Linked DNA regions of Homo sapiens: region 1 is linked to region 2. Evidence: fine-mapped expression QTL. A gene starts in region 2. The other region holds a variant in brackets. All regions are shown on one strand. Distances are from middle to middle. Region 1 overlaps AGPAT4 (1-acylglycerol-3-phosphate O-acyltransferase 4). Region 2 holds the start of AGPAT4 (1-acylglycerol-3-phosphate O-acyltransferase 4).

Region 1 (8,345 bases), 58 kb after region 2:
TGCCAACACATTTTTGTTTATTTAGGAGAAAGAAGGAGGTATTAGGAATGAGGTCTGATGATGACATTAGTGTGTTATTAGCTCAGGTCATCTGGTGATAGCGCAGGCTGTGTGGCTGACATACCTGGTGATTGGAAGCACATTAAATATCCAAATGAATCAGTCTCATGAAGCTGATTCAATGGAGAGTGATAAGCAAGGACACTGGAGTTCTAAGTTTTTTAACAGGAATAATGTAACTGTGATAGCAAGCCTTGTGTATTTTGAGTAATAATCCATTTATTTTTTAAATGTATCTATCTGCCTGCCTGTCTGTCTGTCTGTCTGTCTGCCTGCCTGCCTGCCTGCCTGCCTGCCTGCCGCCTGCCTGCCTGCCTGCCTGCCTGCCTGCCTGCCTGCCTGCCTATCTATCTATCTATCTATCTATCTATCTATCTATCTATCTATCTATCTCTGTCTATCTTTTTTACTGTGAATCTGTGTCCCTGGTACAAGAAATGACCTTACGTTTTAAATAGGGAATTTAGTCACTCTAAATTTCAAACAGGTGGCCCTAAAGAATCAGCAAGTTTAGGAATACACATGTGATACTGAATTGTATGAATGGATGCTTGGCTTAAGTCAAGTTGTCTTAGCTATTCATATGGTTTATAAATAAATTAATTCGCAAAGTGCCCATTTGTTTTTGGAAGCATTAAATTTCACTTCTGACTTAAGTTACGGCTTTTAAATTAGGTTGTGAGTTTGACTTTGGTGTCTTGTAAGGTTATAAGGCGATCGTGTGTGGTCTTCATGGTGCAGTGGATATTTCCAGGAGGTAAACAAGACAAGCCATTGGGGTATAGAAAAAACAAACCTGAGAGCTTCTATTTATGTTCCTTTTATCTCATCTCGTATCATGCCATCATATTCTATCATATCATAAATGTCTGGATAGGACATTTTATATATTTTTTAAATTATATAAAATACAAATTTTACATATATAAAAGTTGTATATGCTAATGGTGCATATTTAATTTTTTTTTTAAGGAATCAAAAACATTGAAAGACCACTGCCTTAGCTATGGGTTTTGGTTTCACCATACTGGAGATAGAATTTATATAGCACACTTAAAGTAAGGGGGAAATAGTTTTATGAAAACAAGCTCTAAAGCAAGGAAATCCTAATGGCAAAAAATATTTTTGTATTTTTCTCTATTTCAGTTTATCTTGGGCCCAGATGGGATCTGAGGCATTGTCAAACATTTTGAGAACTCCCTTCTCTGGTCCTATTCTGGTTCTCCTGAAAGGAGGGAAAATATTAGATTAAAAGTATTCTCCAATTCCACAGTCTGTTTTGAAGGAAAAATCCTAGAAACGCTTTGGTAGATACAGTGTTTTATCATACTGTTTGGTAGATACAGTGTTTTATCATACTGTTTGGTAGATACAGTGTTTTATCATACTGTTTGGTAGATACAGTGTTTTATCATACTGTTTGGTAGATAACAGTGTTTTTTCACCTCTGCCACCTCAGAGTATATGGTTACATGATATGGAAAGTGTTGAGGACAGCAGTTATTTTCTAGCATCCTTATGGCTCCCTTTATAGCTTCCAAGTGGCTGTTTTTGAGTAGATTTGATGTGGATACACTGTGCTAGGGCCGTGGAGCGGAGGATCCTGCCCCGGTGTTATGGTAACACGCACTTGGAGCCTGGAGTCTTGGCTTCTGAACAGTGGCCTAACCACCTTGGTGACACAGTCAACTTACCTGGGTTTGGTTTTTTAATTGTAAGATGAGGGAAATAAATTGTAAGGTGCTAGACAAACGTAAAGTAAAGGTATTCTTGCTGTGATTTCCCCACTTAGTCAGACCATCATGCCAGCAGAGGGAGTCGTGCATGTTTTAAAAGGGAGCTCTGGTAATTTGGTAATCTCTTCCCAACTTCTTCTTCATTGATTTCATATAGATAGCTTGGCACTGACATTTGTGGGAATATTTGCACCATAGAAATCGGCAGAACTATAAATCAGGGCTTTTTTTCCTCCCACCTACTGCCTCCCCTGCCACACAAGAGCTGGTTGTTAACCATTTTCCAGCACAGCACCATTGGCACCGTCACTGTGGACGGGGGTAGAGAGCTACAGTCATCTTGTGCAGGTTGTATGTCCACCCCAGGGCATGTGGTTCTCTTGCCAGAAGAACAAGGCACCAACTCATCAGACACAGACACCAGCCATCACAGGGCATTCCCGGTGAATGCATACGTGTTCAATTGGTCTTTGCAGGCATCACATAGAACATGCTCTACGCTACAAGGTGAGTTGGGAGATGAGGAAGAGACCTTGTCCTTCAACCCAGTCACAGTCTAGTGATGGTGAGTTCTGCATGTTATCCAAACAAGAACAAACCCAGAGCTGGTGTGTGCAGGGCCCCGCGGGAGCAGAGGCACCAGCTGTGCTGCCTGTGAGTCCTGTCCCAGGGCAGTGGCCTGGGCAGGCGGGGTCAGGGGAGGAGGTTTCTGGCTGGACTCCCTGATCCAATTCCAGGGCTTTGAGGATTTCTGAATATGCCATGCCTCTCCCAGCCAGTCCTTTCACCAGGGTAATTATGATGTTCATAAATGAGATTGTTCATGTACAATTTCTACACCAGTAGCCAATTTCTTTAAATGGAAAGGAACAGATTATATATACCTATGTCTCCAACTAGAGCTGAACATGATTAGTGAGAGAAAATGCAGGCATAACGCCAATGCCTTCATACTGGATTACCATGCACCTGATGGACTCCCCCAGGGACACACAGGGAGAAGCATGTCTTTTGGGCTTGGATATCGCCTGCAACGTTGTGACAGGCTGTTAACACAGGTCTCCACCACAGCCTCTCCCAATGCGTCCTCCATCTGACACACCATAAGGCTTTTTAAAGCACGCTCAAACAGTGAGATGCCCTTTCATTCAACTTGGTAGACATCTATTGAGCACCTTCTGTTACCATGTACCAGGCATTGATGGGAGCCCAGTTCTGACCCAAGGCTAGGTTTTCCAGCTCAGCATGTCCCTGGCTCCCAAGCGGATGACCGAGTTCTCCGGTGTTCCCCTGTCCTTTCGCGTCCCCACGCCTGTGCTCACTCCGCCCCTCCCCTGGCTTGCCTTCTCCACTGTCTGCTCATCTTTCATTGCTGAAACGCGGAGTCAGGCCCTAATGATAAAACACCTAAACGGAAATTGACAAGGACAGGAAAGCCTGAAGGTGAAGAACACGTGTAACATGAGAACCGCATCAGCAGGTGAGCAAAGGTGAATCAGAGCCACGTGTGAGGGGAAAGTCAAATTAAGACAGAAGCAGGGATTACTGGGTGATAGGTTTGGCTGTGTCCCCACCGAAATCTCAACTTGAATTGTATCTCCCAGAATTCCCACGTATTGTGGGAGGGACCTAAGAGGAGGTAGTTGAATCATGAGGGCCAGTTTTTCTCGTGCTAGTCTCGTGATAGTAAGTCTCACGAGATCTGATGGGTTTATCAGGGGTCTCCGCTTTTGCTTCTTTCTCATTTTCTCTTGCTGTCGCTGCTTAAGAAGAGCCTTTCGCCTCCCACCATGATTGTGAGAACTCCTCAGCCATGTGGAACTGTAAGTCCAATTAAACCTTTTAAACCTTTTTTGGTTTCGTTTCGGGCATGTCTTCAGCAGCAGTGTGAAAACGGACACTGGGGAAAATCATCTGAATTAAGAGAGTGCTGGGGTGGGGCCTGGGGCGTCGGGGCTGATGCTGCCCCAGCATTTTGGTTTCCACAGTGGAGCCCAGGGAGGAAGTTGGGAAAGAATGAGGAAAGAACGATTGCCCGGAAGCGTTTCACTGTCCTGAGGAGAGTGAGCCTGAAGATTGTAGAAGGCAGTTGCAGAGGTTGTCTGTCATCCTGGACAAGAGACGCACTTGTTGCAGACGTTTGCTTGAGGACAGAAGAGACTGGGGCTGCTGTTGCCTATTCTGTTTCATGGCTTTACTCTGAGAGCCCTGAAAGCATTGACCCTTTGCTTCAGTCATCCATTGAGTTATTCCCACCCAACCCCAACGTGGGTTCAGAACCCTTTCAGAGACATCTCCAACTTGTATTTGTGTCTAAGAGTGTTAGTCTCCTTTGTCAGACTATGAAGAAGCCTTGTCAAGGCAGGAGGGAAAAGTGCTCTTGGCAGCCTCACAAATCTGGCTTTAGCTGAAAGGTATTTTTTGTTTGTTTTCTTTAATCCTCGTCAACTGGACATGGTGCGGTTAAGAGAGGCAAGTATGTGTGAGCCTGGACAGCTTTCCAGCTCTAGGGGCAGAGGAGGTTTGATAGCCCTTCATGGCAGGGTGCATGCGAAGAGTTTTGCTTGCCGGCATAGATAAACTTGACTATGTCTGCTCTACTCAATTTGATGTATAGTTTGAAAGGTAATGCTGTATTA[C/T]GAATAAAATAATGGGTATATCTACCTAAAAAGGAGAAATTACAATGGGTTGGTGGCTGGTAGGACTTTTAGAGTTTGAGCTATCAACAGGAAACTTGGATCTTGTGTTTTTGTGTTTTCTTTTTTTTTTTTTTTATGGTAAGGGAGGTTATTCTACTGTGTGGTTCAAGCAGATATACCCCTCAGCCACTGCAAGGATATCAGTGTTTCAAGCATGTGCTAGGCTTCAGAATATAAAGACTAGAATGTTTTAGGTTCAAAAAGAGCTTGTTATACATTTAAAATATGGGTTTTGCCTGTAATGTGTGCCAGAGAGACAGACCTGAGAACCACACTCATGCTGAAGGACCAGGATATCTGAACCTGATTACCGAGCATGAGATCAGGGTGAGTCACTGTCAGTCTGTGTTTGCTGGGTATATGCGTATGTTTTGTAAATCCAAGAGTATGGGAAATGGCAGAGAAGGAATGAGCCATGGCCTCAAAAACCTTGAGATTCAGCACAAATATGTCCGCTGGGATGTGTAAACATTTTCAACCCACAGATACGGGGAAGCTTAATTCTACAGAAACATTTGCTAACTAGGCAACAGATTACAACACATGCAGTGTATGAGTTATGGAAGAGTAGGATCATAAGTTAAATAGGGTCATTAATGTAGCTTGCCAAATTGTGAAGACTCTTGTAATAGTATTAAAATTGTACTCAAGCCTATAGAAATGTGAAGCATCTAGACAGTCTCTATGGGGTATTTAAATAAGTATTTAAAATGTCACATAAAAAACATAGCTTGTAGTCCTACCAAAGAAAAAATTGTTAGTATGAAGCTGGATATGGTCTGATTTTTTGAAACTGCAGATGGGCCTGTTGCCTTTGTCTCAGTCTTATCTAAGGCAGGCCAGCAGAACAGGTTTGGAGGTCAACGTAGATAGTTTTGAAATATAGTCACGTGCCCCATAATGACTTTTCAGGCAGTAGACCACATTTACAACGGTGTCTGCTAAGATTGTAATACAGTATTTTTGCTGTGCCTTTTCTATGTTTATTTTATTATTTATTTATTTATTTATTTTGAGACGGAGTCTTCCTCTGTCACCCAGGCTAGAGTGCAGTGGCACGATCTCGGCTCACTGCAACCTTTGCCTCCTGGGTTCAAGTGATTCTCCTGCCTCAGCCTCCCGAGTAGCTGGGACTACAGGTGTGTGCCACCATGCCCAGCTAATTTTTTTGTATCTTTTAGTAGAGACGGGGTTTCACCATGTTGGCTAGGCTGGTCTCGAACTCCTGACTTCAATTGATCCGCCTGCCTTGACCTCCCAAAGGGCTGGGATTACAGGCATGAGCCACCATGCCCAGCCCTATGTTTAGATACACAAATAGTTACCATTGTGTTACAGTGACCTACAGTATTCAGTACAGTCACATGCTGTACAGGTGAGCAGCCTAGGAGCAACAGGCTTCTGAAACCCCCAAAATTTGAGACAGGCCTCAGTAAATTTAGAAAGTTTATTTTGTCAAGGTTGAGGATGTGTGCCTGTGACACAGCCTCAGGAGGTCCTGACAACATGTGCCCAGGTGGTCAAAGCACAGCTTGGTTTTATACATTTTAGAGAGACACGAGACATCAATCAACAGATGTAACATGAACATTGGTTTGGTCTGGAAAGGCAGGACAACTCGAAGGAGAGGGGCTTCCAGGTCACAGGTAGGTGAGAGACAAATGGTAGCATTCTTTTGAGTTTCTGATGAGCCTCTCCAAAGGAGGCAGTAAGATATGCATTTATCTCAGTGAGCAGAGGGATGCCTTTGAATAGAATGGGTGGCACGTTTGCCCTAAACAGTTCCCAGCTTGAATTTTCCCTTTAAGTGATTTTGGGGGCCTAAGATATTTTCCTTTCACATTCCCCAACACCCCCACCCCCACTTTAAAAAATTTTTTTGGAGAAAGCATTTTAGAAGAAGATGAGTCTCTGTTCCCAGGTTTTGTCTGATCTCTCATGACTAGGATGGCTTATTCCTAGACAGGTAGGATCTAAGTTATTAGGAAAACTCATTTTTATAAGGTTATTCTATGAAGAGAAAATAGAGGAAGGAAGACAAACAACAACAAGCAAAAGAACAATCCTGGAAAAATCAATATAGGCCACATTACTCTGAAGCCCATACATCAGTAGGCAGGTATGAAAGTGGCTTATGTATGTAAATAGATTGTTGTCATTTTCTTTTGAAGTTTAAGTTGTCTGGCTTCAGTTCACAGGGCTTTACAAAAGCACAGCTTAGTTTTCAGTGACTCCAAATTAGGAAAAATTGGGAAAAAAAGGAAGGAACAAAAAATTGAAAACATTATTTTGAAGACTTGTAGCCCAGAAAACTTAGAATTCAGTCCAAACTGTAGAAAATAATAAAAATTGAAAAATGTAAGATAAAACTAGAATCTAACAACAGGTGTACTATAGTTTTGAAGCATAATTATTCTCTCTTCAGTTTCCCATTTTTACTAAAGACAAATCATGGTAGGACTGGTTTGCTTTATTATACTTGGCCTAATTATTTGTATACAGTGCAGCAAGAATAATTATTTTTACAAAGGCTTTTAAATTGGCTTTGATGGAACTGTGTTCCATAGGAGGAATCTCAGATAAGACTTTTTTAAAGCCGAGCCCAGCCATGGATTTGTGCCATCAAATACCTATGAGTTGGGTGATCAGCTCCTCTTGAGGTTCCAAGATAAACTTGAGGCTCCTGGACCTGCCAGAAAGTGACATTGTTTACCTACCACAGGTCAGGAACCCTGTGCAGGGGCTGTGTAGACAAAGGTATGAGGCCAGTTTTTTCCAAGGGGTTTTTATTGGCTTCATAAGTCAAGTTTGATTCCTTAAAGGAAAGCACACCATTACAGTCAAAGTCTTGGTAAAATAAACAGTTTCTCTGATTGTGGCCTGTTACAGTGAAAATTGATTCTTACTGCACTTATGCAAATAACTGTATTGTTATAAGTTAGTTATCAGAAACCTGCATTTAAGAACACCTGTTAGAGTTCTATAGCTGATTATAAAACCACCTTCTAAGGAGGACCAAAACAAGACAATTGTCCATGGATGACAAAATGTATTAGGGTAGCCATAGTGAAAGACACAATTGACAAGGAAATTTGTTACCTTGTGGCACACTAACAATTTAACATAAAAATTATAATTATCACTGAAAATGTACATTAAGTCATATTAGAATTACAGGAGTTTACCCTGATTTTGGAACACATACCAATAACATATTTATACAAATACAACCTAAAGGAAACCAAACACCATTTCGTATTTGACAATGTTTCCTGTATAATTTTTATACCAGATAAGCCAAATTATGTCACTTTTGGACTTTAGGGAATCTAATGTCTTAAAGGATTAATTAGGTAAGAAAAAGACATAATTTATAATTTGATTTTGGCAAGTTTGTCAAATAACAAAGGTTTAATACTATTGATATCATAAAATAGGGTCATTCATTTAACTAAAGTGATAACTCAAGGATTTCAAAAAAGGCAAACATCTTCATTCTTTGAGAGAGGAGACTTAATGTTCCAAACAATAAGCCCTAATAAAAATAGCACAAAGTCATTTAAATTTGTTTTTCAAAATTTTGTAAACAATCTATAAAATTTTAATCTTGACCATAAGATACAGCTTCCATAAGCCTTTTATAACCTTTATAACATTTACTGAGGAGTCAGTTAATGCTTCAAGAAAACTTTGTTAATTTGACACAGGGGCCCATATGCTAGTCTTGCATCAGTGTGCCCTTCAACATTAATGATTAATTTATAGAGAAACTGAACTTATTTTATCTTTCAAAATCGACCTTTACAATCTCATGCACCCACCTCTTCCACAATACTCTCTGGGCCTTGAG
Region 2 (8,345 bases):
TCAAATTAACTTTAGCATTTACAATTTTCCTTTGTCTCCTCTAAGCAGCCACAATTTCCAATGTAGCACATAATGAGGTCATCATAGTTGCAAATCTATATCTTCATATTGTATAACTTGAGAACATTTTTAAACTCAGTGTATAGGTTTGTGTGGATGTTGTATCAATGTTCACAACACGAGGCAAGTGGAAATAAAGCAAAAATACTGTTAATGTGTAATAACATTGTGCTAACAGAATGGGCAATTTGTAACAATGCCATCAGTGACTCCACTATCTAGCACAACAGTTAATACATAGTGTGTAAGTTCACATTTCAGATAAGTGATAGTTATCATTTTAAGTACCAAAACTTAGGTTTAAAGAAGTTTCTGAGATATGCAGAATTCTACCTCTCACTGGGCTTTGAAAATATGTTACTCCTCAGGACTCACCGTGTCGTAAGCATCACTGATTATTGTTTATGTCTGTTCTAAATTGCAGAAACAGTTTCAGAAACCTAGGTTATTTGGTTTTTAGTCCTAATCTTGTTACTGTAAAAGTCACACGTGTTCATCCATTGTAGAAAGTTCTCCAAAGTGCAATCACATATAAAGAAGCAAATAAAAATCATCCTCAATCTCACTCTCCAGAAGTAATGATTATTAACAGTTTCATGATCTTCATCACACTGCATTAAGTTTCCCAGAGCTGCCATCACAAATTAGCACAAACTGTGTGACTTAAAACAACAGAAATTTATTCTCTTACAGTTCACGAGGCCAGGAATCTAAAATTAAGGCATCAGCAGGGTTGGGTCCTTCTGGAGGCTCTCAGAGAGTCTGTTCCATGCGTCTCTCCTGGTTTCTGGTGTTTGCCAGCAATCTTTGATTCATAGACACATCATTCCCATCTCTACCTCCGCCATCACATGGCCTTATTCTATGTGTGTGTCTTTCTGCATCCTCTCCTCTTTTTATAAGGACACCAGGTATTGGGTCTATAGCCCATCCTAATCCAGAATGACTTCGTCTCAGCTGATTAACATCTGCAAAGACTCTGTTTCTAAACAAATTCATATTGTGAGGTTCTGGGTGAACATGAATTTGTGGGGGACACTGGGGGACACTTATTCAACCCACTACACACACTGTAATATATATTTATAGAATCACGAAAACGGGACCATAATTTATATAAAGCTTAGTTCCCTTTACACTTAAGATACCATGAATTTCCCTAGGTCTTTCAAACACAGAATTTTAATTTTTTGTAGAGTGTTTCATCATATGAAGATTACATCATTTCCATAGCTAACCTGCTACTTCAAACACTCAGATGGTTTCCAGACTTTACTATTATAAATGGCTCTGATGAATATACATGTTCCCAAATCTTTGAATTTATCTCTGCTTATGTCCTTGGTATAAATTATTCTGAGTCGAATTATTGGATTAAGGGGTATGAACATTTTAAAGGCTCATGAAAAATCTTCTTTAATTGAATTCCAGAGATTGTATCAATTTGCCATCACCAGCAGAAGAGAGAACCCATGGCATTGCATTCTCTGCACTGCACGTTCTAGCTTTTTGAGTGTTGGACAAGTGACTAGGCAAAGAAATAACATCCTTACTTTGTGACTTGTATTTTTATGTAAGGTTGCCTCTTTGTTTACGGACCACTTATATATCTTTTTTAGGTTACCAATTTATGATTTGTGTCTCCTTTTCAATTTTTTTCTCCTCTCTCCAACTGCCAGTATTTATTTCTTACCATCTCACGGATGAGTATACTGTCCACCTCCACCCCTTTTAGAGTCCACTGTTAGCTAAGAAACTATGTAGATGTATCCTCCCTCTCCTTTTCCCATTCTCGAACCACCTCTGAATCTTGTACAAATGTCAATCATTGCCTCCATTGTGTCTTAACTGTTTACATTTCGCTTTCCCTTCTAAGACTTTGAGCACTTTGGGGCCATTTCCATGTCTTATCTGTGTTTTTGTATCTTCAGCAACTAACATGGATGCTCAATAAACATACATTGAACTGAGTTGTTACGTTGTGACCTGGAAATATTCACAATTCCTTGTATAGATAGAAATAGCTAAATAAGGGCACATAAGGATAGACTCTAAATGGCACTCAATAATGTGCATAGGGCTGGGCGTGGTGACTCCCTGCCTGTAATCACAGCACTTTGGGAGGTGGAGGTGGATCACCTGAGGTCAGGAGTTAGAGACCAGCCTGGGCAACATGGTGAAACTTCGTCTCAACCAAAAACACAAAAAATCAGCTGGGTGTGGTAGTGTATGTCTGTAATCCCAGCTATTTGGGAGGCTGCAGCACGAGAATTGCTTGAACACAGGAGGTGGAGGTTGCAGTGAGCTGAGATCGTATCATTGCACTCCAGCCTGGGCAACAGAGCAAGACTCTGTCTCAAAAAAAAAAGCATAGGATTTAATCCATGAATTTTGAATTTCTATGTTAAATTTTTAGAAATAGTAACTTTTTCTCCCATATTTCTCAGCTATATCTGAGATAACTGGGACTGAGCAACATTGTCTAGACAGGCAAAGTGTTAGCAATAATAAGTATAATAATAATTGTAATGTAATAATGGAATGAGGATGTTAAAGTACTGAGATCAGGATAAAAGTTACAATTGTCCAAATTTTAAATTTCCTATCATTTCCACTGAAATCACTGACTGTACTTATAACATTATCAGGAATTTATGCAATTTGTAGGTTTTGAAATAAATTACCATTCAGAATTCAACCGTGAAAAACAGTGTAACTCTACTTGAAAAACACTTTGAAAAACTCAAGTTTCCACCAAATCTAGAAGCACATGGGTCGTAAAACATAGTTCGAAAAGTTACGAGAGATGATGACTACAAGGAACTTTTTATAAAAATCTTTTATAAGCATTACTCTGTGGTCAAATTTATTTTCACATGGATATTAAAACAAGTTATTGCTACAAATGGGTTTCTGTTCTGATCCTTTTTTTGTTTGCCTCACATATCCTTTCTCTTCCACCACATTCTGCTTCACTCTCCCCGTCTCTCATCACAGACAAGAAAAATGCCACCTCCCATAGGACCCACTCCAAACCCTGTTTCCTGAATGATCAATGCCTTCCCCCATCGCAATCAAAAAAGCACTTTCTATTCTGTCTTCATGACACACTGGTTTTGACACTTGCATAGCTGTTAGTAATTCTGCAATGTGCTTGGGCTATTTGTGAGCACATGTATTTTTCCTTTATAGATTATAAACATCTAAAGAACAAGGTTAACCCAGGAGTCAAGTAAATAGTTAAATATTATTTTGACAATGGCTGTAATAGTGGACATTTGAAAGGAATACACCTCAGTATTTTGAAATTGAAATAATTTTCTAGATCCTGGCATTTCTGGACTTTCAACAGCCCACCCTTTTTAAAAATTGTGAAGACACTTTTACTATAAAGGTCTGCCCAGACCCTCTCTGATACACCTGTGTAAATGCCACGTGCATGTGAGCATGCGACAGTACGTGTGTGCACGCCTGTGCAGTGGTAATCAACCATGGTGCTAAGGTTTGAAAACAGAAAATACATCAATCGACCTCCAAGCTTCTTTCATCCCACTTCATAACATCTCAATCTCTTGAGTGCTGAGGCTTATTTTGTTTAAGATGATTTGGACTCTTCTGAGTGCAACGCAATCTCCTTCCAGCACAGCGGACCGAGGAGAGGTGAGGGGAGAGTTTTGAGGGTGGGCATATTGATCCTACGCTTGCTGAATTAAAAATGAGCCAACTGAGGACAATTTCCAGGTTGCAACACAGACGGAGCCGGAGTCTGGGTTGAGGTTAGAGGAGCCGTTAGGGCGCAGGGATGCAACAGGATTTGGGAGAAAGGGGAGAGAAAGCAAGGCCACTTCCAGGGGGCTTTCATTTTTTTTTTATCCTGGCAGCTTCCCGAGCCAGATTTCAAAAGCGATTTCAAACGTGAAGCCAACTGAAGCACTGCCTTACACTAATTGGAAGGGGAAGGGAGTGACTCATATTACACCAGCTCGCTCTTCCCTCTCGGCAACTGCTAACTTGTAGCTTTAAAAGGAAGTGACATGGGTGGGGAGAGACGTCAGCTGAGGACCACTTTTTTTTTTTTTTTCTTCCTGAAGGGTCCACCCCATGGGTGGAGTCTCGCTTTTTCTTTCCAGTGTTGGCTGACTTACAGCTCTTATAAACTAGTGGCAATTTCTGAACCCAGCCGGCTCCATCTCAGCTTCTGGTTTCTAAGTCCATGTGCCAAAGGCTGCCAGGAAGGAGGTATGTGGTCCTGGTGCCGTTCGCAGGCACCTTCCCCGCTGGGTGTGGCTGATGTTTGCATTCCTCTTCCCAGCATATTTTTCTCTCCTGGGCTGGATTTCCTTAGGACCTCTGGAAGGGGTAGGCTCCGGGGGCGGGGGGGGAGTGCAAGGCGGGCGGGGGAAAGGTGCAGGGGGCGCCTGGAGGGAGGCGAAGAGAGGCTCTGCTGGTACAAAAGGACCCTCGCTTTGTGCTGGGCCGGGTGAGCGTCCCTTTCTGGGCTGTGATTTCAAGCTGCTGTTCCTGGCTTCATTTACCCACCCACCCAGCCCCCTCCCGGGGCTAAAGCATTTTCTCTGCTATAGACGAAGCTGGGCGGGGGGTGGTGGTGGGGGGAATGTTCCTATTACATATTGCTCTCTTTTGTGTCATGCAACATGTTCTTCCGTCGCTGACGTTTCTATGGCAACCACAAAAATACTACACAATATGCAGCCCCGATATACATTGATTTATTTGTATTTTGTGTCTAGTTTGCAGCTTTCTGCTCTGCTTCTTGCTTTGGTTTGCTAAAATCCAGCATGGCTTGTGGCTACCCCTCCTCACTTTCATTTTGGTTTTTCCCTATCACAGGAGGGGTGGGGGAGGGGAGTTGTCAAGGAAACAGGCATTGGTAATTACCTCTCTATTTACCTAATTTTCGGCCTATGAATTTCTCCATATCGAGGAATTAAAAAAAGAATGCTTTGATGTTTATGTAAGTCTTCAGTGTCTGGTCTTTTTTTAGAAAACCTAAACACTTCTTAAGATAAGATATTGATCCTGTGGTCAAGCTAAGGGGGAATTAATTCCTTACAGGAGGTGAGATCATTGAAATAAAGTTTTAGAGAGCATTGGAGAATTCGCACTGATAAATGTGATATTGCCTGCCCAGGTTTGCCTAAAAGCTTAAATATTTAAAAGATGGGTCTTTGCTCTCATCTGCACTTATTTAGCTCCAAATCTTAAGTTCAACAAGTATGAGTAACAAATTAACTGCCGGGCAGGATTCTCCGTTTTTCGTTTTCGTGCATTGTTCTTAGATGGATTAGCCACGCTATTCACTCTCTTCAAGGTGAGGGTTGCTAGACTTTTTCAAAACTGTGGAAGGATTAACTCATCTGTGATTAGTCAACGACTCTCAGTTGGAAAAAAAGTATCTTGAGAGAAGGGAGAATGTGTGTGTTTGTGTGTGTGTGTGTGTGTGTGTGTGTTTAGGGAAATGGGAGGCGGGCAGGGAGAACAGGGCACATCTTGAGTTCTACGTTAAAAGGATTCCATCTTCTGAATATTCTCTATGGGGAGAAAAACTGTTATTCAGAAAAAATATGAAATGAGAAAATTATTATCTACTTAGTAATAAGCAAAGTTAATTATAATTAGAATCAAATAACACATCTCTTAGAAAGACATAGCCTCTTAACAGGTACCGGCTAAACTGATGCTTTTATTCAGTACGTCTAAGGAAGCGTTTGATAAGGGATACCATTCTTCTGATGGGCATCCCAAATAATTAGCTTTTATAAAATAGATAAGTAGTAATCCCATTCATGACTCTTAAAATTATCTATAATTTAAGATAAACATGTGTGAAGGTCACTTAGCCCTCATACCTTCCGGCTGCTAAAGCCAAAATCATTACTTATAAACCTTGAGCAACCCTGCCATGTGGAAGCAGGAAGAATGGGTGGTTTCAGTGAGGTTCTGTTTGCTGTGATCCTTATCTAAATATGCTATCATCTATGTCTTATCAAATCTGCTATAAATCCAGAGGTCCTAAGTAATTCAGGTAGAAAAGTTACCTGAAAATGGGGCAAAATAGCATGGCACAAAACAAACCAGAGCCACATGGAGTTAAAGACGAGAACTATTTAAAGGGCATAACACACAGAAAAGTATTACTAAAAAGAATATGACACTCATTTTGAAAAGCACATGTTAGTACACAGAGAAACGGTTGGATTGTGAGCATCTGATGTTTGCAAAGAATTCTGAAAAGCAGCCAGGCTGAAATTACTGTTTTTCCTGTCTGAAAATGGTCCTCAAGGGCAGATTTGCCACATGACCTTCCAAAGCAGATTGACAGCATGTAAATCAAAGTCTGCGATGTCGGTTCTCTTGAGTTTCCAGATTCAAAATTTCACAGCAAAAAGCCTAATGGAATAGAACTGAAAGGAAAAAGAGCAAGACTTCCTCAGAAGCACAGCCAAAACAAAAACAACAAAAAACCCAAACCCAATAAACAAACAAAACACTGTCTGATATTCAGATGCTGAGTAGAGGTTAAAGCAGTTAGCAGCTTTGGCCTAGGGAAGGTAAGTGGAGCTGTGAGTATAAAGTAAACGTAGGGTCCCATGGAAGAGGCTGACAGAGGTGACACCCAGAGGGTGAGTCAGCCGTCATTTTATTGGGATTTTACTGTCTGCAAGGCTCTGCTGTGAAGTTGGTGAAGAAGGCAGCAGTTGTAGTCTGTGCTCTCAAGCTTAAAATCCACCAAACGGGTGGCGAAAAGAAGAGCAGAGCACCCAGCTGGAAGGAAGGGGGAGGCAACAGCCAGTCAAGGAGACGCAATTAGTATGAGAAGAATACTAGAGAGTCTTCATCCTGCTGCTGAAGCTTTATAGGAGAGGAGGCAGACGGTTCAAGGGAAGAAGGAGAGGGTGTCTTAGATAGCAAAGGTGGATGGTAAGAAATGGATCATGGTTCAGGGTTCTTAACTCCAAGAAGGGAGAAGTCAGTCTTTAGTATAGAAGTAGAGCAGGTATACTCTGTGCTGGTTGAAAGCATAAGTAGATGTAAATTGGGGACAGAAGTTTTTCTTAATCAGAAAAAGAAGGACTGTTAGAAGACTGAACAGAAGGCAGAATCCTTCCTAATCCAATACTTTTTTAGCTTCAGCTTAACAACGAAAGGCCAGACTTACACTAGACTTTAAACAGGTATGAAACTGGGGAAGACGCAACCAGGAACTTACCCGGAATGTCATCTTCATAATTCCTGCCATTGCCATTGTTTTAAATTATTGGATGCTCAAATGAGGGTTTGGTAAATGTCACACGTTTTGTGCAGTCTCCTTTATTCTGGAAAGGAGGTCTGATGGTTATGGGACAAAGCCGCATTCACATTTATTTTTTTTTTGAGATGAAGTCTTGCTCTGTCGCCCAGGCTGGAGTGCAATGGCGTGATCTCGGCTCACCACAACCTCCCCCTCCTGGATTCAAGCGATTCTCCTGCCTCAGCCTCCCGAGTAGCTGGGATCACAAGCATGTGGCACCACGCCCAGCTAATTTATTTTTTATTTTTTTGTATTTTTAGTAGAGATAGAATTTCACTGTATTGGCCAGGCTGGTCTCGAACTCCTGACCTCAGGTGATGCACCTGCCTTGGCCTCCCAGAATGCTGGGATTACAGGCGTGAGCCACCGTGCCTGGCCCACATTCACATTTCTGAATGGTGTTTGACCTCTAAATCTTTGGTGAAACGCCTTTCATCACTCCTATTTTGAAATATAATCATAATAATCATGTAACATTTCCTAGAGCTTGGGCAACTCAAATTCATTATTCTTTGTGTGAGAATCAGTTTGGAAAGGAAGCGCTGGAACTCTGAAACCTGGCTTCATGCATGGGCTTGGGAAGGTCTGCAGTGGCTGCCAGGCTGTAGGAAAGAGGAAGCTTAAAGCATGAACTCTTTCTTCAACAGCTGTTTATTACGTGTTTAATAGGTGTCAGGTCCCACAGATGCAACTGTGAGCAAAACAAGATACAGTTTAAATAGTTATAGTTTTCAAATGGGTTTACAAGGGAAACCCCATGACTGGCAGATACCCATTTTCTTCTAATGACTGAATAAGAGGAAATATCTTAAAAGGAGTATAATTTGTTTCAACATTGTCATGGAACAATCCATCTACCTGTCTTCTTTTCCTTGGCACACTCTTGCTCCACAAAGATTTCCCATTGGTTTCATTGTTTGTCGTTATCTTGTTTCTCCGATCTAATTTGCTCTACTTCTTCCTTTGATCCTAA

The links.
Region 1: its variant is fine-mapped to the expression of AGPAT4 in whole blood (INTERVAL, PIP 0.96).

What each region holds. Positions count from the first base shown.
Region 1 is chr6:161,211,933-161,220,277 of GRCh38, reverse strand. The region is part of intron 2 of AGPAT4 (1-acylglycerol-3-phosphate O-acyltransferase 4); the gene reads left to right. Among named protein-coding and RNA genes, the nearest start is that of AGPAT4-IT1, 54 kb to the right of the region's middle. The variant C/T (reference allele first, on the strand shown) is at 4,436.
Region 2 is chr6:161,269,892-161,278,236 of GRCh38, reverse strand. AGPAT4 (1-acylglycerol-3-phosphate O-acyltransferase 4) reads left to right here and starts at 4,176. Exons shown (of 9, transcript NM_020133.3): 1 at 4,176-4,299.